Homo sapiens: one gene and its partners. The protein of the gene in region 2 interacts with the protein of the main gene of each other region in a pairwise test. Each region holds a gene or a part of one and is shown on either strand. Other genes may lie near its edges.

Evidence for each region.
Region 1: the proteins of SH3GL2 (region 2) and PTPN23 interact in a two-hybrid assay, tested with the Homo sapiens proteins (one study listed by BioGRID and IntAct).
Region 3: the proteins of SH3GL2 (region 2) and EGFL6 interact in a two-hybrid assay, tested with the Homo sapiens proteins (2 studies listed by BioGRID and IntAct).
Region 4: the proteins of SH3GL2 (region 2) and PAXIP1 interact in a two-hybrid assay, tested with the Homo sapiens proteins (one study listed by BioGRID and IntAct).

What each region holds. Positions count from the first base shown.
Region 1 is NC_000003.12:47,376,652-47,384,035, reverse strand, and holds the start of PTPN23 (tyrosine-protein phosphatase non-receptor type 23), read right to left. Parts: upstream 3,016-7,384; 5' UTR 2,940-3,015; coding exon 2,856-2,939; exon of another isoform or gene 2,544-2,855; intron 1-2,543. UniProt on the Homo sapiens protein: Plays a role in sorting of endocytic ubiquitinated cargos into multivesicular bodies (MVBs) via its interaction with the ESCRT-I complex (endosomal sorting complex required for transport I), and possibly also other ESCRT complexes.
Region 2 is NC_000009.12:17,574,302-17,582,081, reverse strand, and holds the start of SH3GL2 (endophilin-A1), read right to left. Parts: upstream 3,017-7,780; 5' UTR 2,840-3,016; coding exon 2,795-2,839; intron 1-2,794. UniProt on the Homo sapiens protein: Implicated in synaptic vesicle endocytosis. May recruit other proteins to membranes with high curvature. Required for BDNF-dependent dendrite outgrowth.
Region 3 is NC_000023.11:13,565,252-13,572,611, forward strand, and holds the start of EGFL6 (epidermal growth factor-like protein 6 isoform 1 precursor), read left to right. Parts: upstream 1-4,349; 5' UTR 4,350-4,610; coding exon 4,611-4,684; intron 4,685-7,360.
Region 4 is NC_000007.14:154,965,103-154,972,124, forward strand, and holds part of PAXIP1 (PAX-interacting protein 1), read right to left. Parts: exon of another isoform or gene 6,105-7,022; intron 4,987-6,104; exon of another isoform or gene 4,952-4,986; intron 4,025-4,951; coding exon 3,301-4,024; intron 2,809-3,300; coding exon 2,714-2,808; intron 1-2,713.

The DNA of each region.
Region 1 (7,384 bases), on a different chromosome or scaffold from region 2:
CCCTTCTATTCTAAATTAAATTCTAACCCTCAGCTCCAATTCACTGGCAGAGGTTCCCACAGCTCAGAGCAAGCATAAAGCAGGACAAGGGTGCCAGTGGCAGAAGGCAGAGAAGGGGCTCTGCAGTTGGGGAAGGGGGTGCAGGTTGGGAAGAGTCCCCAGGCTGCAGTGGTGTCTGCACAGTCTCCTCCAGTGTCTATAGGAGTAATTGTTTCATATCTGATACCACCTCGGGCTAAAGGGCTAATGAGCAACTCCTCTCCTGGAGGCCCAGGTGCATGGAGGGAAGTCACTGGTCACACAATACCCTTTGGGTCGGTGTGAATCGTCAGAGCAGCAAAGGCTAAGTTCAAACAAAAATACTTCCTAGGAGTTTCTGGGCCAAGATTTTATCTACTGCATTCCCATATATTTATGGTCACCATCTCTAAATTTCCGCTCAGCTGTAATTCAATCATTTGAGAAATATTTTTCTGACTGCCAACTATGTAGAGGGTACACTGTTAGGCTCTGGGGAACACAGAGATGCTTCTCAGGTAACACACACTTGAACAGGGGGGTTAAAACACAGCATACATAACTGTCACCAGGGAAAGGATGAAAAGAGTTAAGGAATTAAGAGAAGAGAAAGATTAATCCAGGTAGAAAGATTAAGAAAGGCTCTGCAGAAAGGAGAGCTTAAGTAGACCTTGAAAGTTGGATGGGAGACAAGAAAATGGAATTCACGGAGATTGAAGAAGGGCACCTCACCACCCCACAGGGCAAAATGAGACCTCTTCTAGGCAGGAGGAATTCCATGACCAACGGCACAGAAGAGGAAACAGAGTATGGTAAGGAAACAGCAAGTGACTGAGAACAGAATCTAGGGTACCTCTATCAGATGCACACAGTAGATGAAGCACACAGTGGGGACTCAATAAATGCTGAAAGAAGTGGGATAAGTCTGGAAGAACTCTAATGGAAAACTAAAGATACTGGCTCTATTCCAAGACTCCGTCTCCAAAAAAAAGATACCGGATCTATTCTGTAAAACAGAAAACAGGAGTTTTGGCCAGGCGCGGTGGCTCATGCCTATAATCCCAGCACTTTGGGAGGCCAAGGTGGGTGGATCACGGGTCGGGAGATCGAGACTATCCTGGCTAACACGATGAAACCCCCTCTCCACTAAAAATACAAAAAATTAGGCAGGGGTGGTGGCGGGTGCCTGTAGTCCCAGCTACTTGGGAGGCTGAGGCAGGAGAATGGCGTGAACCCGGGAGGCGGAGCTTGCAGTGAGCTGAGATTGCGCCACTGCACTCCAGCCTGGGTGACAGAGTGAGACTCCGTCTCAAAAAAAAAAAAAAAAAAAAAAAAAAGAAAAGAAAAAGAAAACAGGAGTTCTGTTGTGTCTTAGAAAAATTCATCCAATTGTATTTGTATGAAACAGCAGATGAAGGCCTGTAATCCCAGCACTTTGGGAGGCCGAGGCAAGCGGATCACCTGATGTCAGGAGTTCGAGACCAGTCTGACCAACATGGCAAAACCCCATCTCTAATAAAAATACAAAATTAGCCGGGCATGGTGGCGCATGCCTGTAATTCCAGCTACTTGGAAGGCTGAGGCAGGAGAATCGCTTAAACCCGGGAGGCTGACGTTGCGGTGAGCCGAGATCGTGCCATTGCACTCCAGCCTGGGCAACAAGAGCGAAACTCCGTCTCAAAAAAAAAAAAAAAGGTAGGAAAAAGAAACAGCAGATGAAGAAGAGAGCAACGTCTGGATAACCGTTAACAAAATTCTAGAATTTTGGATCAATTACCCTCATTTCCTGGCCCCAAGAGGCTAGATGATGGACTCAAACACTGTCTGAACTAAGGCAATGGTGTATGGCGATTAGAGGGGAGACAGCTTCTTGGGAAACTACTTCCAAACCCATTTTCTTTTTCCTATTTGTCTTCCCAAGCGTCTCGCTAAGTGGTGCACCATCTAGATTGGGGCTTACTCTGGCATCTGCTGTGCTAAGCCCACAAGGCCCCCCACCTGCGACGGCCTCCTGGTTGTTCCTTTTCATTTCTGCTCTAGCCCTCAGTGCTACCAATACAGCGGATGTCTCGGAGGGCACCTGTGTTCAATCACCACACCTGAACCTCTCCACAGAAGTTCCTTGCCTTAGTCAACGCCAAACCTGCCCGTCTGTTCTTCCAACACAGTAAGATTTCTCTGAGCTCTACAACACTGTTTATGCCCTCCAGTCGGTTACGAAAAGCAGTAACCCTCCTAAAAATGTCGTGGGATTGTATTGTTTGGTCCAAAGAGACTCCCGAATGGGAGACCATACAGAATCGCAGCAATTGTAAAACAAACCCTCACCGCAGGGGTCGGGCATCTCCCTGGGCCACCGGGGCTCACGTCTTAAACACACGCCCCTGAGCCATCCCCAGTGTCTGTCCCAGGCGGGCGTGGACTTGACAGCGCACCGAGGGCCGGGCGCAGCAAAAGAATCCGCACGGTCAGGGCCGCCCACCGCTCCCGCGCGGGGCGGTCCTGGCATGGAGGAGGGGCGGGGCAGAACTGGGTCCGAGCGTCAGAAGGAGGAAGTGTGCTGCCTCAGTGGGAACAGCGGATGACTCGGGGCAGAAGTCGGGAACCGGGTTCAGATGAAGATGCAGGTGCTAGCACGGGGCTATCGGGGAGGAGAAGAATGGCCTGCGGGCGCCGGGGTGTGGGACAGGCTGAGGAAAACCGGCGAAGGCCCCTCCTGGCCTCACCGGACCCTGCGACCGGGCCTGAGGAGGTGATGGGCGCGCAGGGGGGCGTCACGCGCTTGCAGACGACGGAGATACGCGGCGGATAGGGGGGAAGATGGAAGGCAAGCTCACCTTCTTCACAGCTGGCTGGAAGTGAAAGTCACCGGCCTCCTTCAGGTCCAGCCAGATCATGGGCATGCGGGGCACGGCCTCCATGGCGGCTGGCACCCGCCGGCCACCCGGCCACTCCCGTAGCTGCTGCAGCTGCTGGCTCAGCCACGAGCCCAGCCCCGCCCCTTCGTGCCGGAAGTCACTGGTCACGGGAGGGAATGAAAAATGCCAGCGGCCTGCCGGGAGTTGCAGTGAACCCAGCCACCCGCTCGCGTAGTCTTTTGCGCAGGCGCTGTCCCTGTTGCGCATGCTCAGTCTTCTTCGCGCGGAGGGAGTAGGGCGGGGAGGAGCTCGCCAGCCCGAGGCGAAACGGCTTCTGGGATAGTAGTCTTCATCCACTAAACTGAGAGGCGCGGAGCGAGCTTATTCCCCGCTCCCGGGCCAAGCCCAGCTGCGGGTCCCGCCCGCCGCGCTCCTCCCTCCTAGGAAGAGCATGAGACCTCACCTATGAACTTGCCCTCCCACGTATTGTCAAGAGCCGTGGAGGACTGGTGCTGTGGTAGAGATGACGTGGCGGGCGGGCCGCTGGAAAGAGATGACGCGAAAACGGGCCTTAGAGAGGGTGCGGAGGGAGCACCTGGCCTGAAGGAGTCGGGGCTGAGAGCTGGGGGTTTCAGTCCCAGTGCTGCGAAGGCTTTCGAGCTTTGGAACAGAATCACTGACCGGAGACTGGCCTACTCAGCCCAGCCTGGGAGGCCGGGCAGTGCCCAAGGGAGACGGACGATAGGGAGGGAGCGCCTGGATGGAGGGTCTCAAGCGGAGTGAGGAGGCCCCGGGCCCTGTGGGGAAGTGGGTGGGGGAAGGTATACGGCCAGGTGAGCACCCAGGGACGCCCACAGTATCTGGAAGGAGACCACGGAATGGAGAGCACCTGTTGCCTCTGGAGAGGGGACCTATAGAGCAGGAATTGTTAAATCATATGGCTGTATCACCTACTTTTAGAAATAAATAATAGGCTACTCGGGAGGCTGAGGCTGGAGGTTCAATCGCTTGACCTGGGAGGCGGAGATTGCGGTGAGCCTAGATCTTGCCACTGCTCTCCAGCCTGAGCGACAGAGCGAGACTCCGTCTCAAAATAATAATAGTAACAATAGAAATAACAGAGAATGGCCTGGAGATAGTGAGTGCAAAAGTGCGAGCTGGGAGATCAGTGAGCCTTTTGTAGTCTTCCAGGAGACAGGTGATTGTGGCTTGGAGCAGAGGGAAGTAAAAAGTGAGCAAAGAAATATTTTGCCCACTTTGAGAAATATTTGAGGAATATTTTGGAGACAAAAGTATCAGAACTTGGAATGGATGGATGTAAGGGCATGAGGACGTCGAATATGATTTCCAAGCTTCTGGCTTGTGCAGGTGGGTGGCTGTGGGGCTGTTTACTGATAAGGGAAAACAAGGGAAGAGCAAAGGTTCAGGTCCGTGTTAAGCTCGAGGTCAAGGCCTTTGACTCGTTCTGGATGAAATGTGGAGACCACGATGCCGGGTGCGGTGGTTCACGCTTGTAATCCCATCACTTTGGGAGGCCGAGGCGGGCGGATCGCTTAAGCCCGGGAGTTCAAGACCAGCCTAGCCCACATGGCCAAACCCCGTCCCTACAAAAAATATAAAAATTAGCAGGACATGGTGGCTCATGTACGCCTGTAGTCCCAGCTACTCAGGAGGCTGAGGCGGGAGGAACCTTGAGCCCGGGAGGCAGAGGTTGCAGTGAGCCGTGATTGTGCCATTGTACTCCAGCCTGGGCGACAAAAGTGAAACCATGTGTTAAAAAAAAAAAAAAGAAAAGAAAAAGAAAAATTATGGAGACCGTGGGATGTGGGTGGGATCTGGGATTCTAAGACAGGCTTCACCCACAAGGTAGAGCCCAGGTCCCTTTGTTGTGAGACCTCAAACCCTTTCAAGACTTAGTCAAGGGCCTAGCTTCATTCCAGTTGGAGTTAGAGCAGAAGAAAATGAAATTACATGAATGTTCATAGCAGTACCATTTCACAGTAGCCAAAAGAGAAGCAATCCATGCAGTGATGGATGGATGCATGAATAAAGATGATGTGTGTACATACAATGGAATATTATTCAGCCTTAAAAAGGAATGAAATTCTGTTACATGCTGCAACATGAATGAACCCTGAAGACATTATGCTAAGTGAAATAAGCCAGTTGCAAAAGGACAAATACTGTATTCTGCTTATCTGAGATACCTAGTTAGTCAGAGTTATGGAGACAGAAAGTAGAATGGTGTCTGTTGGGCTAGGGGAGGGGAGAATGGAGAGTTACTGTTTAATGGCTGTATAACAATCTGAACAATTTAATGCCACTGAACTGTATGCTTGAAATTGTAAACTTTGTGGCTGGGCACGGTAGCTCACACCTGTAATTCCAGCACTTTGGGAGGCCAAGGCGAGTGGATCGCCTGATTTGGGAGTTCAAGACCAGCCTGACCAACAGGGAGAAACCCCATCTCTACTAAAAATGCAAAATTAGCCGGGCCTGATGGTGCATGCCTGTAATCCCAGCTACTCGGGAGGCTGAGGCAGGAGAATCGCTGAACCCGGGAAGCGGAGGTCGCGGTGAGCCAAGATTTGTGCCATTGCACTCCAGCCTGGGCAACAAAGAGCGAAACTCTGTCTCAAAAAAAAAAAAGAAAAATTGTAAACTTTGTTAGGTATATTTTACCACAGTTTAAAAAAAATAAAATATAAGACCTTGCAAATAATTTATTTAAAGAGAAAGAAAAATTTTGCCAGTTCTTCCAGCATCTTAGAAGAGCTTGTTTCTGGAAGACTTTTTTTTCTTTGAGACAGAGTCTTGCTCTGTTTGCCCAGGCCAGAGTGCAATGGTGTGATGTCGGCTCACTGCAGCCTTGGCCTCCTGAGCTCACTCAATTCTCCAACCTCAGCCTCCCTAGTGGCTGGAGTACAGGCGTGTGCCACCAGGCCTGGCTAATTTTTTCTTGTATTTTTTGTAGAGATGGGTTTTTGCCATGTTGCCCAGGCTGGTCTTGAACTCCTAGGCTCAAGCAATCTGCCTGTCTCAGCCTCCCAAAGTGCTGGGATTACAGACAAGAGCCACTGCGCCCAGCCTGGAAGACCATCTTGAGGTCACCTGGACAGAGATAGAGAAATTTTGGGCAAAGCTGGGCATGGTGGCTCACGCCTGTAATCCCAGCACTTTTGGAGGCCAAGGCGGGCGGATCACTTGAGGTCAGGAGTTCAAGACCAACCTGGCTAATATAGTGAAACTCCACCTCTACTAAAAATACAAAAATTAGCTGGGTGTGGTGGCGTGTGGCTGTAGTCCCAGCTACTAGGGAGGCTGAGGCAAGACAATCGCTTGAACCTGGGAGGTGGAGGTTGCAGTGAGCCAAGATTGCACGACTGCACTCCAGCCTGGGTGACAGAGCAAGACTCTGTCTCAAAACAAACACAAGAAAGAAAGTATGGGAAGGCCTACAACCTGCAAAACTGCCCGAACACAATTTGTAGTAAGTAAAATACAAAAGCATAAAGCAGCCTACCTTGGGGCTTTCTGATGGTGAGGCAGTGGTCAGCCATGAGGGAGCTGCAAGACCTAGGCACAACAGCTGAGTCCAGAGCAGGCTGGGAATTGGGAGACTACATCATAGCATTACTGAGCAAAGAAGCAGGCGGCTGCTTGGCCACAGGACACAGACAGCCCAGGACCCAAACTTGAGGCCAGCAAGGGGTCAGGATTAAGCTGTTGCAGTTCAGTATGGGCTGGAACAGGAAGTGAGAGAGGAAGGGGAGAAGTAGGAAGCCCTAAATTGGGCCTTGCAAGACAGAGAAGACCTATAGAGATGGGCATTCCAGGCAGGTGGAATTGCAGATGCAAGAGGGAGCTCTGGCGAGGCTCCAGGATTCAGGAGAGCTGGGCAGATGGGTCCCTATCTCATGAGCTTCCTACAGTGATAGCTTTGGCCCTACTGCCTTTCCTTCCCCTGGCCTCTACTCCCGAGGTGGAATGGGAACACCTTGTCCCCACATGGTGCTTCTGGAGTTGAACTACAACAAAAGAAATAAAGTATTCTGTGAGTTCCAGGGTGTATTCATTTGCTAGAGTGGCCATAGGAAAGTACCACATACTGAGTAGGTTAAGCAGAAATGTATTTCCTCACAGTTCTGGAGGCTAGAGGTCTGAGATAAGGTATTAGTAGAGTTGGTTTCTTCTGAGGCCTCTCTCTTTGGCTTGTTAATGGCCATCTTATCCCTGGGCCTGGTGACCCTGCCTTTAAACTCAGTCACATTCTGAGGTACTGGAGGTTAGGACTTCAAACATGAAATGAGGAGTAATGGAGGGGGCACATTTAGCCCATAACACAGGGTCACAGTGACATGAAGGGCAATTGGTGTGAAAGGCATCAAAGACCAAGAGGACCTTCACAGGCCTTGAATGCTGAGGGCGGGGATGGGTTGGTGGAGGTGAGACAGCAGAAAGGGTGACTCCGGGGCAGGGAGTGCCCTCCTAACATGTATTTCCAGGCA
Region 2 (7,780 bases):
GTTTTATTTATCATCGCTTACTAACACAAGCAAAAAAGCTCAATTCCATAGAAAGAAACGTTTGCGTGAACAGACTCCTTCCACTTATAAACCCAGGCTATAGGCCAGGTGCGGGGGCTCAGCCTGTAATCGAGGCGGGCAGATCACCTGAGGTCAGGAGTTCGAGACCAGCCTGGTTAACATGGCTAAACCCTGTCTCTACTAAAAATACAAAAATTAGCTGAGCGTGGTAGTGCATGCCTATAATCCCAGCTACTCAGGAGGCTGAGGCAGGAGAATCGCCTGAACACAGGAGGCAGAGGTTGCAGTATGCTGAGATCACGCCATTGCACTCCTGCCTGGGCGACAAGAGTCAAACTTTGTCTCAAATGAATAAATAAATAAACAAACAAACAAACCCAGGCTATATTATCCAGCACATCAGTTCTCAAAAGGAAGTAATTCTAGGTCTAAAGCTTCTCTGTAGATAACATCAGGTTCACGGACCTGATGGAAAAAAATGGCTACAAAAGTAGGACAGGACTATTTCTCTAATTTTTTTGTCACATGCAAACATTAACATGGGCTTTACATACTCTCCTAAATATACATATGCACAGAACAGTCACCTGTGCCTTAGACTTTCTAAGAGTGTGCTACACTAAATTATGGATAAGAGACTACGTGCTGCTTCACCTTTCAAATAAAAGGCTTTTCAGTAAAAGGAAGACAATGACGCAGTGATTCTGCATTTGGATTCGGTGTGATAAACATTAACCGTATCGCATCACATGCCGACCTTCTCCAACCTTTTAAGTTCTTTCCTAACGCAGTTTAAATTATTTTTTCTACACTTTAGGGCGACACAGAACTTCAAGATTTAGCGGAAATGGAGCGCTCTATTTTTTAAGTTGGAAAAACTAAAAGGTCTAGCTTGGGTAACTTCTTCACAGCATAAGGGATAGTATTTTATACTAATAAAAATATCCTTTATGTCAATAACTATAATTTATTGAACACTTTATACGTGTGTTCTACACACTCGTTTCTCTTCACCTCAACCCTGAAGAGACAACGGAAATTATCATCACTTCAGCATGGACAGGTTCAGAAGTTAAATACTCTCTCAAGGTCAGAAGCAGCAGAGGCAGGATTCAAACCTTAGCCTTTCCCACTCCAAAGCCAAGACTCTTAATTGCCTTTGAGGGCACTAAGCTTTGCAAAAGAAATCTTTAGAATCCAAGTGGAAAAAAGATGTGTTGGTAAACGCAGTGCTGAGATATGCTATAGAGAAGTGACCAGTAGAGCAATCAAAAAGGTTAGTAATATCGAAGAAGTCCTGCCACAGAATTCCTGGGCAGCACATATGCTTGGTTCTGTAAACCTGAAAGAACTTGCAGTATAAAGTTATTAGAAGCCTTCCAAACTACATCAACAAACAAATCACTTACTTTCATAAACATGTCTGGCAGAGAGGTCACAGATAACTCCAATTATAATAGAAAAGCAAAAATAATTACATTAAGAAACATTTTTACAGAAATAGTCTTACTTTTCTTGATTTCCTAAGTTGACAGGTATAATTGATTCTATAAAGGCAAGAATGTGTGATGAAGATGATGCAGATGCGTGCAAACACACACACGACGGGAATTACATGCTGCATCTGTCACCCTAAGTTAACCAAGGTTCTGTAAAACACAACCCTCACCTTTTCTGGATGTGGTTCATAACAAGGCTGCCACTGTGGTAGCCTAGGAAAAACCTCACTACTTCCGAGAAATTATGAGAAAGCTCGTTAATTAAGGCTAACCTATGAAAAACTATTTAACACCAAATCATGAAAAACATTTCGCGGTAAGTCATCAAAATCCTTAAAGATCCCATAAATTTGAACCTATTTCAGAAGGATAAAAAAGTAGTAATCACACACATTATGTAAGAAATAGGTCACAGCGTAAGTATTCGCTTACTTGCCCCTATGTAAAATTCTTTGAGTCCAATGATTTTAATTATTAGAATCTAAATTAATCAGTTTTATTACAGTCACAGCTTATTAACCCCATAAAGAAAAATGGGCACATCCAAGATGCCAAAGATTTATTAAAAACAATTTAAAATACATGATGATTTTAAGTCTTCAACAATTTGGTTGTTTTAGGGAAATATTTAAGACCCGCAGACTGTTTGTCATGCCCTGGCCTCAAAGGAGTTTCACGACCGAGTTCTCCAGGTAAAAGTTAATGTATGCGGGTCCCTAAAGGAAGACCCCAGCCTTCCATTCCCCTGGAGCCTGCGGGCGGCGGGGAAGGAGGGTTCTGACAACAGGGTAAGGGAGAGGAGCGCAAACCGCCGGCCTCCGCCCCGCCACCCCCAGTGCGGCCACCGCTCATGCCAACACATCCCGGGAAAGCCGGGTGCACCGACTCCGCAAGGTCACCCGTGAAGAGGCGACTTTACATAATCTCCCACCGCGCCGCCAAGGCACCTGCGCGCCGCGGCAGCAGTGCAGCCGCGGTCCCCTTCCTGCAGCACGGGCGCGAGATGATGCGGGGGCGGCGAGCAGCGCTACCAGGCAGGACGCCGGGGACCCGCGGGAAGGCAGCGCGCACCAAGCCGGGGGCGGGGGACCGAGGGTGGACGCCCAGACCGGGGATGCCCCGAGCCGCCGCCTTGGCTTGCGAGGCGGGGCGCGGCCGGCGCGGGCGAGGCTCGGTGCCGAACTCCCCAAGCTGCCGCCGGACGGCCAGCGCCGAGCGCGCCCCTCGCAGCTTCGCCCCGGACTGCCCCGGGACGCACCTGCCGCGCGCCTTACCTGAGTGGCTTTATGGAACTGCTTCTTGAGGCCGGCCACCGACATGGTGCAGGAGGCCGCGCTGGCGGCTGCTGTGCGGGAGGGAGGAGGCGGAGGGGGACTGGAGGGCCGAGCGGGGCGGCGCGCTCCCCTGGCCGCCTCTGGTCGTGCCGCCGCCGGGGCTATGGGCGCGAGGGCGCGGAGCCTAGCGGGACACGGGCTCTTGCGGAGAAACACTCTGACGTCAAGGGCGGGTGATGCGGCCTCTTAAAGGGGACGCGGGAAGCCCCGCCCCAAGCGCGGGAACGCCCAGGCAGGTGCTGTGGCGCGCGGTACCTGGATGCTGGCGCCAACTGCGGGGATGTGGCTCAGCGGCACCCGCTGGCGGATCCCTAGTCAGCGGGCCGAGGACGTCCTCCTGTCCCGGGGTTGGTGTTCCTGCCCCCGGGGGCTGCGGACGGGTCGCTGCAGATTGGCAGCCCAGGCACCCGCAGGACTCAGGTGACTTGCTGGGCTTCCAGGTAGCCGCGGCGGCGCTGCCTGCAGACGGCCCTCCTGCCCTTTGAGCCTGGCGTCTCTGCGCCGCAGCCTGAAAAAGACTGGCCTTCTATCTGGGCTAATGAATAAGTCATTGCTCCTTCTATGCCTTGCCCTGACTGGTGGGTCACAGAAAACATTTCTCTGCCCTGGTTTCAATATCCCTTAAGCCCATCTTACCTTAGGGAAAGTCACACACGCGTTTTCCCCCTTGTCTGATACAATTTAATGACTTAAAAAGAAGAACAGGAACCCTTAAGCCTGGACGGATAAATAGAATTGAAGTCTTACTACAAAACTAGCGTTCAATCCTCTGGTTACAGAAATGAAAAAGCCCAAATGTGATCTTGTTGTTATGCTTGTGGATTTAGGGTTTCCGGTCCGATAAAAATCAAAATATAATGTGAAAAAGCATGATACTAAGTTATATACAGATGCTTCATATGTAACCAAGGAGGTATGGCTGGCTAAAGTGAAACTAATAGATGACTTGGGAGCAGAGCAGCACTAAATGCCTTCTGTGCTCTGGTACTTAACCAAGTCTGGTTTTTCTAGGACTGAGGAGGTGGTCAGAAAGAACTTAGACGCTGTCCCCGTATGTGGACCAAAGTGATAAGAAGGAGAAGCCAAGATGGGAGAAATTGCCAAGGATGTGTAGAGACTGCAAGGCCAAATGGGAGTCCTAGAAATACTTTTTCTGTCTCCGCAACTCCTGCAGCCTGATAGGAGCCACAGACCCATCCCCACTCTTCTAGGCACTGCGGCTTGGGCACAGGGTGAACACCTGCTACAAAAGGGTCCTCCATCCGTAGAGCTACCAGTCATGGTCCTTCTTGATAATGTGAACTGACACACACAAAGGCAGAGTCAAGCAGTGGTGGGCACTGGAGCAGTAGAGCGCATGGACTAGGGACGCAGGCTGCAAAGGGAGGCAGATGAAAGGAGCTATTCTCCAGTGTGGTAGCCCTTACCACTGTTCATATACCTTTCCCTACATGGCAGAATTGCACTTTCCAAACCTCTTGTTAAGTGGAGGCATGGTTACAAGTTTTGACTAGAGGTTTAAGAGGAAAAGTGACTGTCACTTCTGCAGCAGCAATATGAGATGTATGAGATGCCGCAAAGCTTTCTTTTCCTCGGCCGCAATATTCTAGAAAGCTGTGGTCTGTCAGCCAGTATCCAGAGTGAGACTAAAGCAGTGCAGAGTCCCCACCTGACGTTCAATGGGCATGTAGCATCAGTGAGAAACCTGAGTAATTTTAATCCACTGAGGCTCCGGTTGTTAGGAATAAACTTTTTTCTCTATGTTTCCAATTTTTAAAAAGGCTACCCATTACTTGCATAATAGAAAAAAAAGTATTTTATAGTTAATTTTTACTACCAGGTCCCTGATCTGAACAATAAAGCATTTTCATAAGACAGGGCTTTGTTGAAGCTGCCAAAAGATAGAGCAATTGATCTACAAAGTGGAAGGGCCTGGGATGGATAGGAGCTCTGCTCTCTAACAGTGAAAGGTGTGAAATGGGGGCCTGAATTGCCTCCTTGGAACTTTGAATACTTAACTGAGCCCTACATTATAAAAAAGGCAGTTTCTATCTTTCCCTGGTTCTTCATCCACCAACCTGGAAGTCTCATGCTGCTTAACTTCAAAGAAACTACCTTGGGAGAAAAAAACTACTTAAGGGCATTACATTAAATCCTTTGGAAACCATTGATTTAGTCGCCCAGGCATCCTCTGCACCTCATCTTATATGGTTTGGCTGTGTCCCCACCCAAATCTCATCTTGAATTGTAACTCTCACAATTCCCACGTGTCGTGGGAGGAACCCAGTGGGAGTGATTGAATTATGGGGGTGGGTCTTTCCTACACTGTTCTCGTGGTAGTGAATGAGTCTTACAAGATCTGATGGTTTTAAAAACAGGAGTGTCTAGTTCAACCATTGTGGAAGTCAGTGTGGCGATTCCTCAGGGATCTAGAACTAGAAATACCATTTGACCCAGCCATCCCATTACTGGGTATATACCCAAAGGACTATAAATCATGCTGCTATAAAGACACATGCACACGTATGTTTATTGCGGCATTATTCACAATAGCAAAGACTTGGAACCAACCCAAATGTCCAACAATGATAGACTGGATTAAGAAAATGTGGCACATATACACCATGGAATACTATGCAGCCATAAAAAATGATGAGTTCATGTCCTTTGTAGGGACATGGATGAAATTGGAAATCATCATTCTCAGTAAACTATCGCAAGAACAAAAAACCAAACACCGCATATTCTCACTCATAGGTGGGAATTGAACAATGAGATCACATGGACACAGGAAGGGGAACATCACACTCTGGGGACTGTTGTGGGGTGGGGGGAGGGGGGAGGGATAGCACTGGGAGATAAACCTAATGCTAGATGACGAGTTAATGGGTGCAGCACACCAGCATGGCACATGTATACATATGTAACTAACCTGCACAATGTGCACATGTACCCTAAAACTTAAAATATAATAATAAAAGAAAAAAAAAACAAACAGGAGTTTCCCTGCACAAGCTCTCTTCTCTTGTCTGCTGCCATGTGAGAGGTGCCTTTCACCTTCTGCCATGATTGTCAGGCCTCCCCAGCCAGGTGGAACTGTGAATCCAATTAAACTTCTTTCTTTTGTAAATTGCCCAGTCTCAGGTATGTCTTTATCAGCAGCGTAAAAACAGACTGATACATCATCTAAACCCAGCATTTGTATTGAAGCCACAATTTATGCCTGTAAAGACCTTTGAGATGTCACCTTTGAAGAAATTTGTTAAGCTCCTCCTACTAGCAAGCATCATGGTAGGAGATGCTGGGATTGAGAAGGGGAAGTATCGAGGCATGTATGGGCTGGACCTTGAATCCCAAGGGGTTTCCAGACGAGTAATTTGAAAAAAAAATCTTCCTAGGGACATTTATTGTTACTTGAATACAGAGGAACAAATACCCCAGACACTGAACAATTCTAAGCATGGATGCCATCTTTGGTTGCAAAGAATCTTCAACAGAGGCTTTGGAGAGAAATGCAGAAGCACAATGCAGGGAAAGGGGAATCAAAAGTCAACGAGGAAGAGCTTTGTTTGGTAAAAGGTTGTGGTAATTCAGCATGCTGCCCTAGTCTCCCGAGATAAAAATCAATGTAAACTGTTAAATAAACCTAGATCTGCTCAGGAAAGTCCCAATTAAATGAAACCCCCACAAAATATCACCTCACTAATTGGGCAGTAAATTCGTGGTCAGCAATAATCCCATCACATCATTCATGCACTATTTCTCCTTGCATTATGGTAAAGCTTCTGGCAAATACCAGACCTCTCATTTGCACAGAGCTGCTGCATCCCTGGCACCTTTCAGAGGGTCCCTAGCTTCAAGGAGGCAGAGGAAAAGCAGCAGCATTCATCTTTCTGAGCTTCAACCCCTGTCTCTGTGCCTCTGGCTCATACCGGGGCAAACTACTCCTGACTTCATGTGTAAGCTCGTTAAGCATAAGAAACATTGCAAAGCAAAGGCATTAAACTCCAACTTCTTATTTTAGAGATAGGAAAACAGAGGCAATGAAGGGAAGTGACTTATCCTTACTTTTTCTACTCCAGCCTTTAGCCTCAATTCAGGGTAGAGCCTCTAGTCAGTGTTAATAAATAGAAGAGGTTTGAATGAATGAATGAATGAATAAAAGAATGAACAATGTATCATTGACACTGATGCTTTCTTCTGACCACATTGGATCTGATGTTCAAAAGCCTTCACCAGATACTAAAACCTCGATTGCGCAGGACCCAGTTTTTCCAGGGTGAGTGGCGCTTAACATAAGATTTTGTGCCTTTGGATGCGCCCCAGTAGCATTGAACACCCACCTAGCTCAGGCAGGGCTAACACGCCCTTTCCTAGAGATGAGAAATCAAGGGAAAGACCATCTTTGTTTCCTTGCTTCCAGTTTTGTCACCTACCACCCACTCTCCAACAGATACACAGAGAGAAGCATTTTTTTTTAACCTCTTTTGAAGTGGATGTGTGGGTCTTTCTGCCGGGGATGGCCACCTTTCCCACCTTTCCTTCTCTCCCATATAGCCCTCCTCCCCCCAAAGTACAGGGGCCTCTCCCTGCAAAAACTTCCTTTTCACTTAGATAAACCCTTTTAACCCAATCACAGAGGAGAAGAAAGTGCTTAACCAAGTGGGTGACTCATGTTAGACTCTTCATCTGTACCATCATCACTATTTCCATTGCAGATTGAAATAGTTCTGACTTCCCCACAAAATCCTGCCACCTCCAGTGCCCATTTGCAGTGTTTTTCCTTTGAAGTCTTTCCCCATCCTTTTACCCTCGTGTCCTCTCTTTATTTTTGAAGCCTCAGCCCTGATTGTGTTGTATTTGGCCTAATATGTACCATAGACATGCTTACCTCTTTGAGTGCAGGGTCTTTATAACTCTTCACAG
Region 3 (7,360 bases), on a different chromosome or scaffold from region 2:
GGTGGCAAAATTAATCTCCAGTGAGGTCTGACTTCAAAGCCCATGTTCTTTTCATTACATTGCTAGGTAATCTTAGACAAGATATTTAGCTGCTCTAAACCTCACATTCCTCATCTGTAAAATGGGATAATAATGCCCACCTTAAACAGGTGTTGTCAAGATTAAATGATTACTCTTTTTAAAATATCTAACATATAATAATCATTCTACAAATATCAATTTCTTCCTCTCCCTCAATTACTAAGTGGTGAGTTCTAAGACCTAGCAAAACTTGAGAGAAAAATGCATCAAGGTGTCATTTTTTCCCTTTTAATCTTGCCTTAGTTTTTTTTTCCTGCCCTACAAGAGGTGAGAATTATATTGTTGAGGGAGACCAGACATTCTAAGAACCACGTGTTAGTCGTCCAGCCCACTTTACCAGGGAGAAAAAAGAAACAGGAACTGTCTGGTGGACACATTTCCACCAAGGGCCCCCACTACTTGGCACAGGGCCCAGCACTTTGTAGGGCCCCAATAAATGTGTGAGCAAGAAAGAAGGAAAGGAACAGAGAGAGAGAAAAGGAGGGATGGGTGGAAAAGAAAGGAAAAGAAGATTGAAAGTGATTGGGACTTTTCTTCTACCATAGAGCTCCAAGAGCAGGGTTCTTGACAGGCACAGGATGAAGAAAATTGATGTGTATCTCAAGAAACACCTTCCCATACTGAATTTAGCAGTGTCTGCATCAAAAGACATATAATTCTTCATTGACTCCTTTCACTGAATAAGAAGAAATGGAAAGAAACAGACCAGGAAAATATATCAATTTCTAGAACAAGGCACTGGGCTACAGTTAACACAGAAGATTAACAATTAAGAGTTGCCAGTTTTGTCTTCAGTAGGAATGATGATCAATAAAACATCATGACGTTTGAAGGGGAGGACTCTATAGTAGAAACACAGAGACATTAATTCATCCTATGTGGGACATCAGGAAAGTTGCTCCACAGGCTGGAGCTGAGCTTTTGCATCTGTAAAATGTGGGAGTTGGTTCATATTAGTGGTTCTCAACATCAGCTGTTCATTAGAATCACCAGAGGGGTTTCTGAAAGTGCCCATGCTCTAGCCATAGCCCAGACATTAGCATCTTGGAAGGTGGAGCCCCAGACATCAGTAGTTTCAAAGCTTCCCAGGTGATCCCAATGTGCAGATAAACTTGAGAACTACTGATCCAGGTGATTTCTGGACCCTCACTACCCCTAGTGTGGTCCTCAGACAAGCAGCATGGGTGTCGCTTGAGATCTTTTTAGTAATTAAGATTCTCAGACCTTACCTCAGACCTAAATAAACAGAATCTGCATTTTAACAAGATCCCCAGGCAACCTGTACTGACATTAAATCTTGAAAACACTGGCCTAGGCACTCTTCTATGCAGCTCTTTCTTCTGACAATGCTTTGCTTTTGGTGCTGATATTACAATAATTTTTAGATCTCAGTGCCTGGCACATTGTAAGTGTTAAAAGTTTTATACGTGTGTCATGTATATGTATTCAGAAAGCACAGAAATATCCCATCACACCTGTTCCACACAGGGGGTTAAGTGGAAATAGATTGGAAGAAAATGTAGCCCTGTAAAAGGCACGGACGATTTTATGAGATTCTGATCAAAGATTGTTTTTTCTCTGTAGAATGATGAAGTAGGGTCCCCTAAAGATCAGTTTCCAGGTTCCTCTTCAAAGTCAGCAACACCAGTGCAGTTACTAAAAACAACTGCCTCCATGTGGCAATTTGTATCCAACATCTTCTCACCTGGCAACACATCATTTGCAGGTTCCTTCTCTGTTGCTCATATTATGTGACAGCTCTTTTGTTCACAGCTCCCCCAGGAAATAATAGGTGGGTTGGCTGGGGAGTGTTTGACCTCCCCCAAAGTTTCCTGTTGTAATGTCCATTACCTCCTTTAAGCCTACAAAAGAGAATTCAGCTGACAAAGAAAAAGCACAAAGCATCAAAATACTGAAACTAAAGCTAGAAAGTTACAGATAATGTCAATGCAAGATGTTATTCTGACTTTGTAACTCAGGACTAAGAAGGCAGATAGCCCTCACATTTTAGACTAATCATGTTTAGTTAGGACTTTTTTGAGTAATGGTTTATTTGGAGGAGGGAGTGATTAGTATCCAAATGTTAAGGGAGAAGTGGCATGGGCAAAAATCCATAATTTTTAATTCGATTCAAGTTCCAGATATTAGGTAGCTGCCAATGTCATGCCACTACCCGTATCCCCTCAGGCCTTACATTTCAGTAGGACCTTCAACAGTCAGTATCACTAGCCATTTGCCTGAGGGCTTTCTTTGGCTGTAAGCCCCACTCTGTCTTCAGCACAGAAGACTGAGTTCTAGGATCAGTACCACAGTTGAAGCTTTCAGGTAATGAGTGAATGGAAGTGGTGTATAAATACCCAGTTCCCTTGCCTTTTAGGTAAAATCATTTGGAGATGCTTGTTCTATGCTGGCTCTGGGAGATCCCCAGCAGCATGAACCTCCAGTTGCTCACAATGATAACTTAATATATGCCTGATATTGTCTTCTTTCCCAACTCATTTCCTCACTCACCTACCCATGTTCTCTGTACCTCCAGAATAAACTACTTTTACTTGAATCCTTGCCTCAGGGCCTGCTTGTGGGGAAACCCACAACAAGACAAATTTTATATTCCATTTTCTTTAAGATCCTCACAGGTATAGAGTTCATAACTTATATTATTTTCTTTTAGTTTTAATATTTCAGTAAATAAAATAAGTTATGGTATGAAGAGTTCAAAGTGTTTTGATGACAACCTTGAAGAGCTCATCTTATTACCTTATTCATGATACTCATCTGACATGTGAATCTGCCAATACGTGAGAAGATGAGAAAAGAGATTGATATAACAGCAGCAGAGCCCAATGGGGAAAAGCCCTGGTTTCCAGTTCTGGTTCTATACTTGTTAGCTGTATGACCTTGGTCGGGCAAGCTGCTTAACCTCTCCGACTCAGTTTCTTGACACTTCAAACATGGGGGAACTAATGGTCTCCATCCACAGGCTTGTGGATGTTCAATCAGATAACATATGTGTTTAGGACAAGGTCTGACACTATTAATTACGAGCAGCTCAATGGTCTAACTAGTTACCCAAGAATACTGAATCCATGGGGATACCTTCAACTGTAAAATAGAAGTCCCAACTAAACATGGCTTGCACCAATAAGAACATCTATTACAATGTAAAGCAAGATTCTGCAGCAAGAATCTCCCCCCTCCCTACTTCTCACATTTCATTGGCCAGAATTAAGGCATATGCCTATAAAACCATGAATCAAGCTTCCAATCAAGATAAACCTCCTCTTTCTCTGTATCCTTTTTCATTTCATTTCTCACACTGGGCCACTGTGTGTCAGAGGACTATCACAATAAGCCTCAGTAGATTGGCTGGTGCCGGGCAACCTTAGCTGAGCTCATTCATATACGTGTGGATTGGGTAATATACATGAGGCTCCACCGAGTAGCTCTGCTTCAAGCTATAGATCTGCAGGTTGACGAGGTAGCTTTTTCACCTGTTTCTCATTCGCCTTGGACCACCAGGCTAGGTGGTGCAAGGTCTTCTCATGTCCATGATAGAGGGTCAGGTGTGTTAAGACCTAGGCTTGGAACTGGAACACTGCAACTTTTCTGCCCTTAAACCATTGATCAAACAAGTCACACGGCCAAGTCCAAAGCCAAGGTGTGGGGTCATAGTGTCTGCCTACCATGAAGCCAAAGGGTGTGGACGTAGGAAGGACAGAAAGGGATCAGTCATTCATTCTAATGTAACACGTTGTCAGAACAAAGAATGTGTCAGTACCCAAATGGATCTGAATTCATATAGCATTCATGTTTCTGCCATGAATTTCTGCACTGGTTACTATATTGGGATGTCATCTGGGGTCCCATGTAAGTAAGCTGTTGCAAATGGGCCTGAGAGATTACTTGCCAAATGACAGGGTTGCCCAGGACTTAGTGACCTTCCAGCTCTAGCATCCCATTATTTGCAGTTTGTAGAAGAAAACCGGGAGAACGTGAAAACCCAAAGAGAAGTGAGGGATCATGTCTTAGGAACCTGCATCCTTCCATCCTGCTTCGACTTCTCAACTAAATTCTTAAGTCCTGGAGTGCAGGTATCACCGAAATTTGCCCCATGCCTGAAATACATGGTAGTAGATGGTGACTCTGACAAGCGTGAAGTGACCTGAATCTGGGGGAAGTTTCTGGGTGAACAGAGAGCGCGGAGGATGCGCGGGTCATGCTGGAGGCGGGTCCCAGCCAGATGTGCACAGCCCGCCCCGCCCTCCCTCGCTCACCCCGTCCAGCTTCATCCGCAGAGGAGCCTCGGCCAGGCTTGCCAGGGCGCCCCCAGCCCCTCCCCAGGCCGCGAGCGCCCCTGCCGCGGTGCCTGGCCTCCCCTCCCAGACTGCAGGGACAGCACCCGGTAACTGCGAGTGGAGCGGAGGACCCGAGCGGCTGAGGAGAGAGGAGGCGGCGGCTTAGCTGCTACGGGGTCCGGCCGGCGCCCTCCCGAGGGGGGCTCAGGAGGAGGAAGGAGGACCCGTGCGAGAATGCCTCTGCCCTGGAGCCTTGCGCTCCCGCTGCTGCTCTCCTGGGTGGCAGGTGGTTTCGGGAACGCGGCCAGGTGAGTGTCTGACTGGCGATTGGCTTCCCCCCACCCCCGGCCTGAGGTCCCGCTTTGGGGCCCCATGTCTTTGCAGGCACCCCCGCGTGTATGGGTGTGAGTGTGCACGTGTGCCTGTGCGCGCTGCGACGGGATTTAACCTGGATACCAGGCCGGGAGCGCCCACGGGCTTTCCTCCCTGCTCTCCTGTGGCGGGGCTTTGCACCTAGTTAGCTCCTTTTGCATCAGCTGTGCCCCACCTGGCTGCGTCCGGAGGGTTGCAGGAGGAGGGAGGCTCTGCACGCAGACCCGTGGGTGCGTGCGGGCTTGATGGTCTGCAGACCTGCTGTAGGGGCAGGTGTGTGAGGGTTGGTATGCGTGTCGGTGGGTGGGTTCTGTGTCTGTGCGGTTTTGTGTTTTCCACTCTATTCACAGGACACCAAGTGCTTGTCAGTCGCTAGTTTTGCTGGGGAAGGAGGGAAAGAAACCGAGGACGATAAAGCATTTACTGTTCTTGAGCTGAGCCAGCCGGGCTGCTCTCCTCACTGCTCTCTGATTAGGGTTGATGAACTGGAAAGAAAGGACACGGTTGTCAGATGACAACCATTCTCATTCTTGCTATGGCAATGCAGACTCTGAAGCCGTTCCCTACTGCCCTTAAGCTTAGCTGAGACCTGAAATATTTTTTCCAGAGATCGGCAAAGACGCTTAGTAAATGCACGCTTACATGGTGACTGTCGACCTGGCACTGTTCTAAGCACTTCAGGACTATTAACCTACCCAAAGCCATAATGGCTCTGTGTGTAAGGTACTATTATCATCATCTCCGTGTTGTAGAAGAGAAAAACGAGGCACAGAGAGGTAAAGTAATTTGCCTGAGGAAGCATAGCCAGTAAGAGATGGAGCCAGGGTGCAAACCTAGGTATTCTGGCCCAAAGTCTGTTCTTCACCAGGGCACTAGGGCAGCCTTCCGGCAACGGAAGAGGTTTTCTGGTTCTCTAACTGTGATGTCTTGCTTTCTACTTAGGTGTCCACTAGAATATGGTTTTTCCACCGCAGCATTATTGACCTTTCGGGCTGGGCTGGATAATTATTTGTTGGGGTGATGGGCTGCCCTGTGCATTGTAGGATGTTTAGCAGCACCTGTGGCCTCTACTCACTAGATACTAGTAGCAACCTTGACCCCACCCCACCCCCCACCACCACCACCACCACCAAGTTGTGGCAACAAAAAAAAGGTTTGGGATATTGCCCAAGGTCCCTGGAGGGCACAATTGCTCCTAGCGGAGACTGCTGAACTATAGAAATTTTTCAGTGATGATTCCTGAGGAGAGTAGGATAAGAGCTTTGGTTTGGTACAGGCTTCTCGAAGGTTTGCCTATCTTTGTTTGACTTACAGGAAAAAATATTTCATCAGAGTTAGCCATGGTATTAAAGGATTTCGAAGTTAAAACAGAACAAACCTCAAACCAGGTTCTTAGAATGTATGATCGCAAGTTTCAATTTCCTTTTCATGATAAAAATGTAAGCAGATGCAATTTGCTCATAATCACATTTTCCTTGAATGCTAGAGGTTCTTGCGTTGCTAGAAAGCCCACTTAAAAAAGACCAAATGCTGTTTGGAGATGAGATTAATAGTTCTTTAGCGGCCAGCAAACTGACCTCCAGGAGCTTCACTTTCAAAGTGCCACCAAATTAAATTAAAAGCCAAAAGCCCCTGGATAAACCAAAGCATATTAAACTGGAGAATCCATGTCAGGATTCTGCAATTCTGCAGTTTTCAAGATGTGAACCATGGTTTCTTTAGACGATTATCAAGTTTATGAGCTGGTGTGTTTATTATTTGCTCAATGTGCTTGGAAATGTCAAGTGGTCAGCTCTTCAGGAATGTCCAGGACCCATGTTTAATCAGCTCTAGATTCCACATTATGGATAAGACACTGTTACAGAGAAGGCAAGGCACCCATTGCAGAAAACTGTGTCTACTGGTTATTTCCTGGGGTTTCACAACTTATAGGAAAAACTGTGGCTGCTGTATAGAGATTTCCAGTATAAGCATCAGTTCTTTTTAATTGAAACACTGCACTATGATTTTATAACCTAGAAAATTATGTGCTTCTTAAATGGTATTTAGTGCATAGTACACAATTAACGCTCATCAAATGAATAAATCATTAGCTCCATGCATGTACCTGCCCTTAAGCTTCAGAATTTGGCTTGCCTTATATTTTTTATGTCCTTTGGGTATTGGAACTATTTAGATACCCTAGACCTGTCCAATACAGCAAAGATGGTAACCAGGAGCCCCAAGTGGCTATTGAATACCTGAAATGTGACCAGTCCAAGTTGAGATGTGCTGCAAAAAGTATCAAATACACATCTAATTTTCAAAAAAAAGAACAGGAACTATCTCACTAATCATTTGATATTGATTACATGTTGAAATGGTAATGTGGATATACTGCATTAGATAAAATTGTTATTAAGATTAATTGCTTCTGTTTCTTTAGCATTTAAAAAATGTGGCTACTAGAAAATTTTAAATGGCATATATGGATATTTATTTCTATTGGACAGTGCTGGTCTAGAACACTTATTGATCTGAACTCCATCTCGAGTGTTCTAAGTCCTAACACTGGGATCTTTTTGCCTTGAGTACCTAAGATAAATATATTATTAACTTTGCTATTCTGGAGA
Region 4 (7,022 bases), on a different chromosome or scaffold from region 2:
GTCACAAAAGACACCATAACGCTGCGGGTTTTCCCTCTATCTTGGGTCACACCCCCTGGGGAAGGGAGCCAGCTGTCATGCTGTGAAGACACACAACCAGCCCTCTGGAGAGCCTCTGTGGTGAGGAGCTGAGGCCTCCAGCCCACAGCCATGTGACGGAACCATCCTGGAAGGGGCTCCTGCAGCCTCCGCTGGCATCCTGACTGCAACCTCAGGAGATAGCTGAGCCACAACCGCCCTGCCAAGCTGTTGCAGGATTTCTGACCCACGACCAAACTGAGAGGTAATGTTTATTGTTTTAAGCCACTGGGTTTTGAGATAATCTGTTACACAGCAAGAGAAAATGAATGTAGTATCACCTATACTTAAGCAACACAGGTGTGAACTGTGTGGGTCCACTGATAGCTGGATTTTCTTCCACCTCTGCCACCCCTGAGGGAGTAAGACCAGCCCCTCCTGTCCCTCCTCCTCCTAGGCCCACTCATCGTGAAAACGACGAGGATGAAGACCTTTATGATGATATACTTCCCCTTAATGAATAGTACATATATTTTCTCTTCCTTATGATTTTCTTAATAACATTTTCTTTTCTTTAGCTTACTTTATTGTAAGAATATGGTAATACATATACAAAATATGCGTTAATTGCCTGTTTATCAGTAAGGCTTCTGGTTAACACCAGGCTATTAGTAATTTGGGTTTTCGGGAATCAAAAGTGATGTACAGATCTCTGATTGCATGGGGGTGAGCACCCCTAGGCCCCACACTGTTCAGGGGTCAGCGGTACATGTCTCTCCTCAATCTACCAGTGTTTTCGTTTGCTTGCTCCTCCTGGAAGTCTCTCTTCCGGTCCCAGGTCTAGTTCTCTCGACACCTACTTTCTCATCTATTGGCGTTTCCCTTTACCTCCATCCTAGGAACTCTCTTTCAATCTCTGAGTCAAATGCCTCATTTCCTGGCTACCATGTTTCACTCTCTGCTGGCATAGTGGCTTCCTAAGAAAGAATATAAGGGAGGTACATTTTTTACCATTAGTCTACAAATATCCTCCTTCCATAGTCTTATGACTGATAGGCTCTATAGGTTATTTTAGGTTGGAAATTATTTTCCCTCAAAAATGGAAGAAGCTGCTCCATTGCTGGCCCCCGCGCACTGCACTGGAGGCTCCCGAAATCACCCAGACTCCTGATCTGTCCACGTTTCCCCTCCAGTGAGCTTGTCTTTGAGAGAAAACAGTTTTCTCTACCAGCATTGTGAATGTTCCCAGTTGCCTTATCATGGCTCTCCTTACATTTCTTTTCAACCTGAGGGCACATGGCCTTCAGTTGCAAAGCTATTTTCTTTCATAATGTTCTTGCCTTCATTTTCTCTGTTCCCAAGATCCTATTTAATGTTAGACCTCTTGGATAAATCTTTTAACTTGAAAACAAGACAAAAACCCCAAACTTTTCTCCACTAACTTTTGTATCTTTGAGTTTTGTTGTACTTCTCAAGACAGTTTCTCAGTGCTGCCTTCGAACACTTCTGACTTTTAAAAAATCTCTGCTGCTGTCCTTCTCAGAACTGCTCCCTTCCTTCCTCACCCTGGCACATGCCATCCGCCTCTTTCCTCAGCCAGCCACACAGTCATCTCCCTGGTCACCCTCAGATTCAACCCTTTACTATTTAAAATGCACAGCTGATCACTTCACCTGCATCTAAACTTCACCACATGGCACACCAACAAGGTCTTGGAAGACACACCAGCCCTGGCTCCTGCCCCAACCCCTGCCTCGTGGATCCCACTGAGGCACCCTCCTTTGCACCCTCCTGTCAGTTTCACCAATCACATGCCTTTGGCTGTGCTGCACTATTTGGAAAATCCTCCCCCCTAATTCTCACTCCTACTCATCCTATAAGCAGTTCAGGAATCACCTCTCCCAGCAGACTTTTCTTAACACATCACCCCACAACACGATGGGTGAAGGTCCTTTCTCAGGCTCTCACAACAGCCTGCATTTGCCACCCCACCTCTGCTTAGCCGTGTGGCTGCCTCTCGCACTGCTCTTCCGTTTTCTCCGTCTCTGTGATTTCGCACATATTCCCTAAGTCTTGCAGCATGCTTGGCACATAGCAGGGATTTAAGCACTAGGGATGTTTATAGTGAAGCACATTCAAGATATATTAGAGGCATATTTAAACTCGGTTTTTATAAAAAAAATTTTTTGACTCAGTTTTGTTTTGGGGAATGCAAGAAAAAGTATTTCTTTTCTTTAAAGGCCACCATGCATGATAATACATAATTAAATTAACTCCAGTTTCACAATTGGGCTGGAAGAATTTGAGGTTCTAGAGATTCCAGGATTTTCTAACAGTTACCTTTGGAGAAAGAGAAATGACTGAGATGCATACAAATTAATAGTCCCTCTCCCAGGACACCAAAACCCTGAACTTATTTCCATTGCCCCAATTATACACATATAATTAGTGCCCCCTGGAATTTCCAAGCTGAAAAAAATAAAAAGTCCACCATCTTCATCTAACAGCTGAGAAAACTGATGCCCAGAAAAGTGCTGTGCCTCAGGTCACACAGAATGTTAATCAAAATGCCCGTCACACATTCAGAACACGTGCAGGTGCAGCTCAGTGAATGCAGCTAAGTGAACACAGTTACATCTACATAAGAAAGAAGCATCTTCAGACACAGTCATCCTTCCTCCAGGCACAATCTCACCCTTTTCCAGGTGGCCAGCAGTTGCTTATCAGACATCTGCTCTGGATAATCCGCAATTGCAAACACACATCCCAATAAGAAGCCTTCTTCTGGAACTAGAGTAAAATTACATAAGAAAAAGAAAATTAAAACCCTATGAATATGCTTGCACAAAAGTTAAAAAGTGGCGCCTCACAATGTCAATCTGTTATGTTTATCAGTCTTGACCATGACGTATCTGCCAGTAATCAGAGTGCATAGGGAATATTGCTACGAAGATACTATTTAACTGTCTACATCAAATGATCATTAAAAACTAAAACCAAGGTAACTCATGCCTGGCCATTAAATACCCTGAATGAGTCCCTGTGGCAGCCTAGATGTTCTACGGGACACCAATATTCACTTCAGGATATGATGTCCCAAAGTACAAAAGAAAGCATAATTATCCCATGGTAACTATATTCTTTGTTAGGTATGAGACTCACACTCTCCATTTTGTAGTAATTGTTTTGATATGAATCCTCACCCCACACTCAAACACTCTCAAAGCATTTATGTGGGTACAAGACTTTTAGGAGAGAGGAAAAATAATCTCCATTACTAACTCTCCACTGCTGGATCATGTCCAAAAAGCTGATGCTGCTGAGGCGATGGTGGTGGCTGCTGTTGCTGCTGCTGCTGCGGGGGCTGCTGAGGTGGAACCTGATGCTGCAGCGCCTGTGACGTCTGACTCAAGTGTGGCGCTGTCTGACTTTGCATCTGCTGCTGCTGCTGCTGCTGGTGCATGCGCTGGAGCTGCTGCTGCTGAATCTGCTGTTGCTGCTGCTGCTGGAGCAGGCTGTGCTGCTGCTGGAGCTGGGCAAGCTGCTGCTGCTGGAGCTGGTGCTGCTGCAGCTGATGGAACTGCTGCTGCAGGGCATGCTGCTGCTGAAAGGGCTGGAGCTGCTGCTGAGGGCGATGCAGCTGCTGTGGAGGATGCAACTGTTGCTGTGGAAACTGTAGCTGTTGCTGTGAAAACTGATGCGGATGGGCTTGCTGCTGCTGCTGCTGTTGCTGTGAAAATGGATGCGGCGGCTGCTGGGGGTAAGGTTGCTGAGAGATCTGCTGCTGCTGCTGCTGCTGGAGCTGCATTATCTGCTGGGGCTGAAGGTGTAAAACCGGGTGCTGCTGCTGCTGCTGCTGGGCCTGCTGCTGCTGCTGTAGCATGTGTGTCTCTGGAGTCACTTTCACTTGGCTAAACAGCACTGCATTGGCATTTGTATGTCCCTGCTGGCTGTGATTCACCTGCTGTTCTAAATTTTTCGTAGGTGCTGAAAGAGTCTGTAAGATCTACAAAACAAAAGTTAGGTGAAACATTATCAACAGTTCCTGAAACAGATGAATGATAATTTCTTAGTCAAGAGAATGGCATATCCTATTTATTAACAATATTCAACTAAGTAGACACAGCAAATGATTGGAAACTGCAAAAACAATACTGCATTTTCTTTTGTATTTATTTTGTAACGCCAATATCGTAAAGTAAATTCATATATTGAGACCACCAAAATTTGAAACTACATCAGTAAAATGGAGTAAACTAACGAATTAAAGTGACAAAGACTCAGACGGCTGATGTGTTTGCCAGAGCAGGGCATGGGAGTCCTGTGCACACCTGGTAGCTAAGCCTTGGTGCTCCCTGCACCGTGCTGCGGCACCACTCCACTGCCCATCGCCTGCATCAGCTCCGCAGACCCTCTCCTGGCCCAGGAATGCACTGAGGAATGACAGGTGGTGAAGGCATCTGGTAATCGGGCTCAGCCTCACCTCAAACCTTCTCGCCACAGCTGCCACTTCCCATTTCCTCTTGTCTTACAGCCCAGAGTCTAGTAAACAAAGGTTCTCAGTGGATCACCTTCCAGATGAAAGCAGCATGACCCAAGCTGTGAGTCCAAGAGCCTTTCGCTCCACTGTCAACTTGCTATGTGCACTGGCATGCTATGGAAAAGGAGGCCAGCTAAGACACCACCGGGGCTGTTTAAATGGTGATGTTCCTCCCAACTAAGGACTCATCATTAGAGCTGGGAAATGATGCTTCCTCAAAAATGACTGAGTCTTCATGGGGGACACAAAAATATTTCAAGCTAGAAAAAAAGAATTCAAACCAGACTATTTGTCTTCTAGCTCTTTCTGCTTCACAATGACAGGGAATAAGCTGAGAGTTCTGTGTACGCTGAGGAGTAGGAGAAGGACGGTGACCAGCAGATGCCCACCAAGCAGAGTAAGTTATTTTTTTAATATCCTATAGGGCACTGAATACAACAAGAGATACACATTATACAATGAATTTTGTTCAACATGCTCAAGCAACAAAAATTTGAAACCAACTTCTTATGGTCATGGAAATCAGTAAAAATAGATTTTACTTAACTCAATCCATACAACTTTTAACCCTATTAAAAGCATTTAAAATTTAAATAAAATTCTAGGAATTTAACACATATCAGAACTATACCAAAATCTCAAACATATTCTAACATGTATCTTTCACTTAAACAGATTCCAAATTGCAAAGATTATATGACCTGCAAGGGTAACAGATTTTGGATTTAGTAATAAATAAGGGAGTTTAGAATTGAAATAAGTCAAAATCAAGAGCTTGGGCACACCCATCTCTAAAATCACCTTATGTATGAGACATCTCTATAAAAGGATTCAAGACTTCAGAAACACCTGAGTGGAACTCTAAGCAGAAAAATGTCTTTTAAACAAAATAATAAGACAACTGTTTCATCTCCATATTTAAAAGTATTTTTAAAAATCCAGAAAAGAAGATGGGACAATTCACCCCACAACATGCCACCCCATGGAGCCCAGCAGCATTTGGTGCTGTGCAAACACCCCCTAAGAAGCATGCACGTGTGGGGCACCTGCCTGCCTGGTGGGCACCAGCCATGAGCCCTACACGGCAAACTGCTGGAAACAGCGGCTGCCTCTTGAGAAGGTAAACAGCAGCGAGGGGTGGGAGGGGGGCTGAGAGTTTAACTGTTCACTCTGTCCTTTGGTATCATTTGAATTTTTGAATTTTGTACACATATTACTTTTTCACCCTCATATGTAAACAGCCCATGGAACTCTGAGGGATGGTAAAGAAATAAATGCCCGTCTGCAGGTGGACAGGGCTGAACTAGTCATTACCAAATGCTGCTCCCCGCCTCTCTGTACCTGCCAAGCCCAGGTGGAAGGGAGCTCAGGAACAGGCACAGGACCTAGACAAACACAGCAGCAGACATCAGGACAGCACAGAGGCCAGAGGCTCCTATTTTTCAGATTGGCCAAGAGGACTCAGCAGGGTCTGCTGCCTGCAGAAAGTGCTCCATCTGATCTCAGAGGGCTGAGGGAGGCCTAGGTAGGACAGGAGGCAACTTACAGCTGTTTCTACTACGGGCTTGAGTTAAGATGGGTCCTCATCCACTGCTGACCCAGCCCATCCACTGCTGACAGGAGGCAACTTAACAGCTGTTTCTACTACGGGCTTGAGTTAAGATGGGTCTTCATCCACTGCTGACCCACCCCATTAAGGGAGAAGAACAGATGGAGATTCAGGACAAGAGTCCCGGCTAGGAATGAAGATGGCCGTTGGCCTGGAACCTTCTCCACTTGAGGAAGCGAGAGGTGCAGGCCTGGATGGAGAGGAGAAATCTGCAAGGCCAGCCATCGAGATGCCTCCCAAAACCCCTACCACATTCATCCGATCACTTTTTCAACCATCTGATCTGCCTCTGGCTGGAAACATGTTAGTCCTGGAGAACGTAAGAAAAAGAATCTTAATTGCTCAATTACGTAATTGTGCTATACTACAAACAATTCTGAATGAATGTCAAGTTTAAATTTTTCCATCACAACTGTCATAATCCTCATTTACATTAATACTGAGTTACTGAATGCCATATATAGAAAGCAGTATGATACACATCACATGGCTTCTAACCACTATAAATTTGCAATTTAAACAGGATTTTGATGGTAAGTTACACTCCCCCCAACAATCTAATGTTCAACTAAATCTGTCTCATATTTCTAAAGTTTCAGTCATTTTCTTCACATCTAGAAGTAAAACGTCCTTATGTTCTCTTGCATTGCTGAAAGTCTCTCAGAAAATCTCCGCAATTCTTCTCACTAGTGATCAAATCCATTCACTCACTAGAAATGGATGGAGCCTTCTCAGTTTTCCACCGCTAGAGCACACAGCTGAGTATATCAAATTTGTCTCCTAAGGACAATTTCCAGTGCAGAGATGTGCCCAAACTCCCTACTGCAGTCAATTCTTTCCATTTCAAAGTAAATT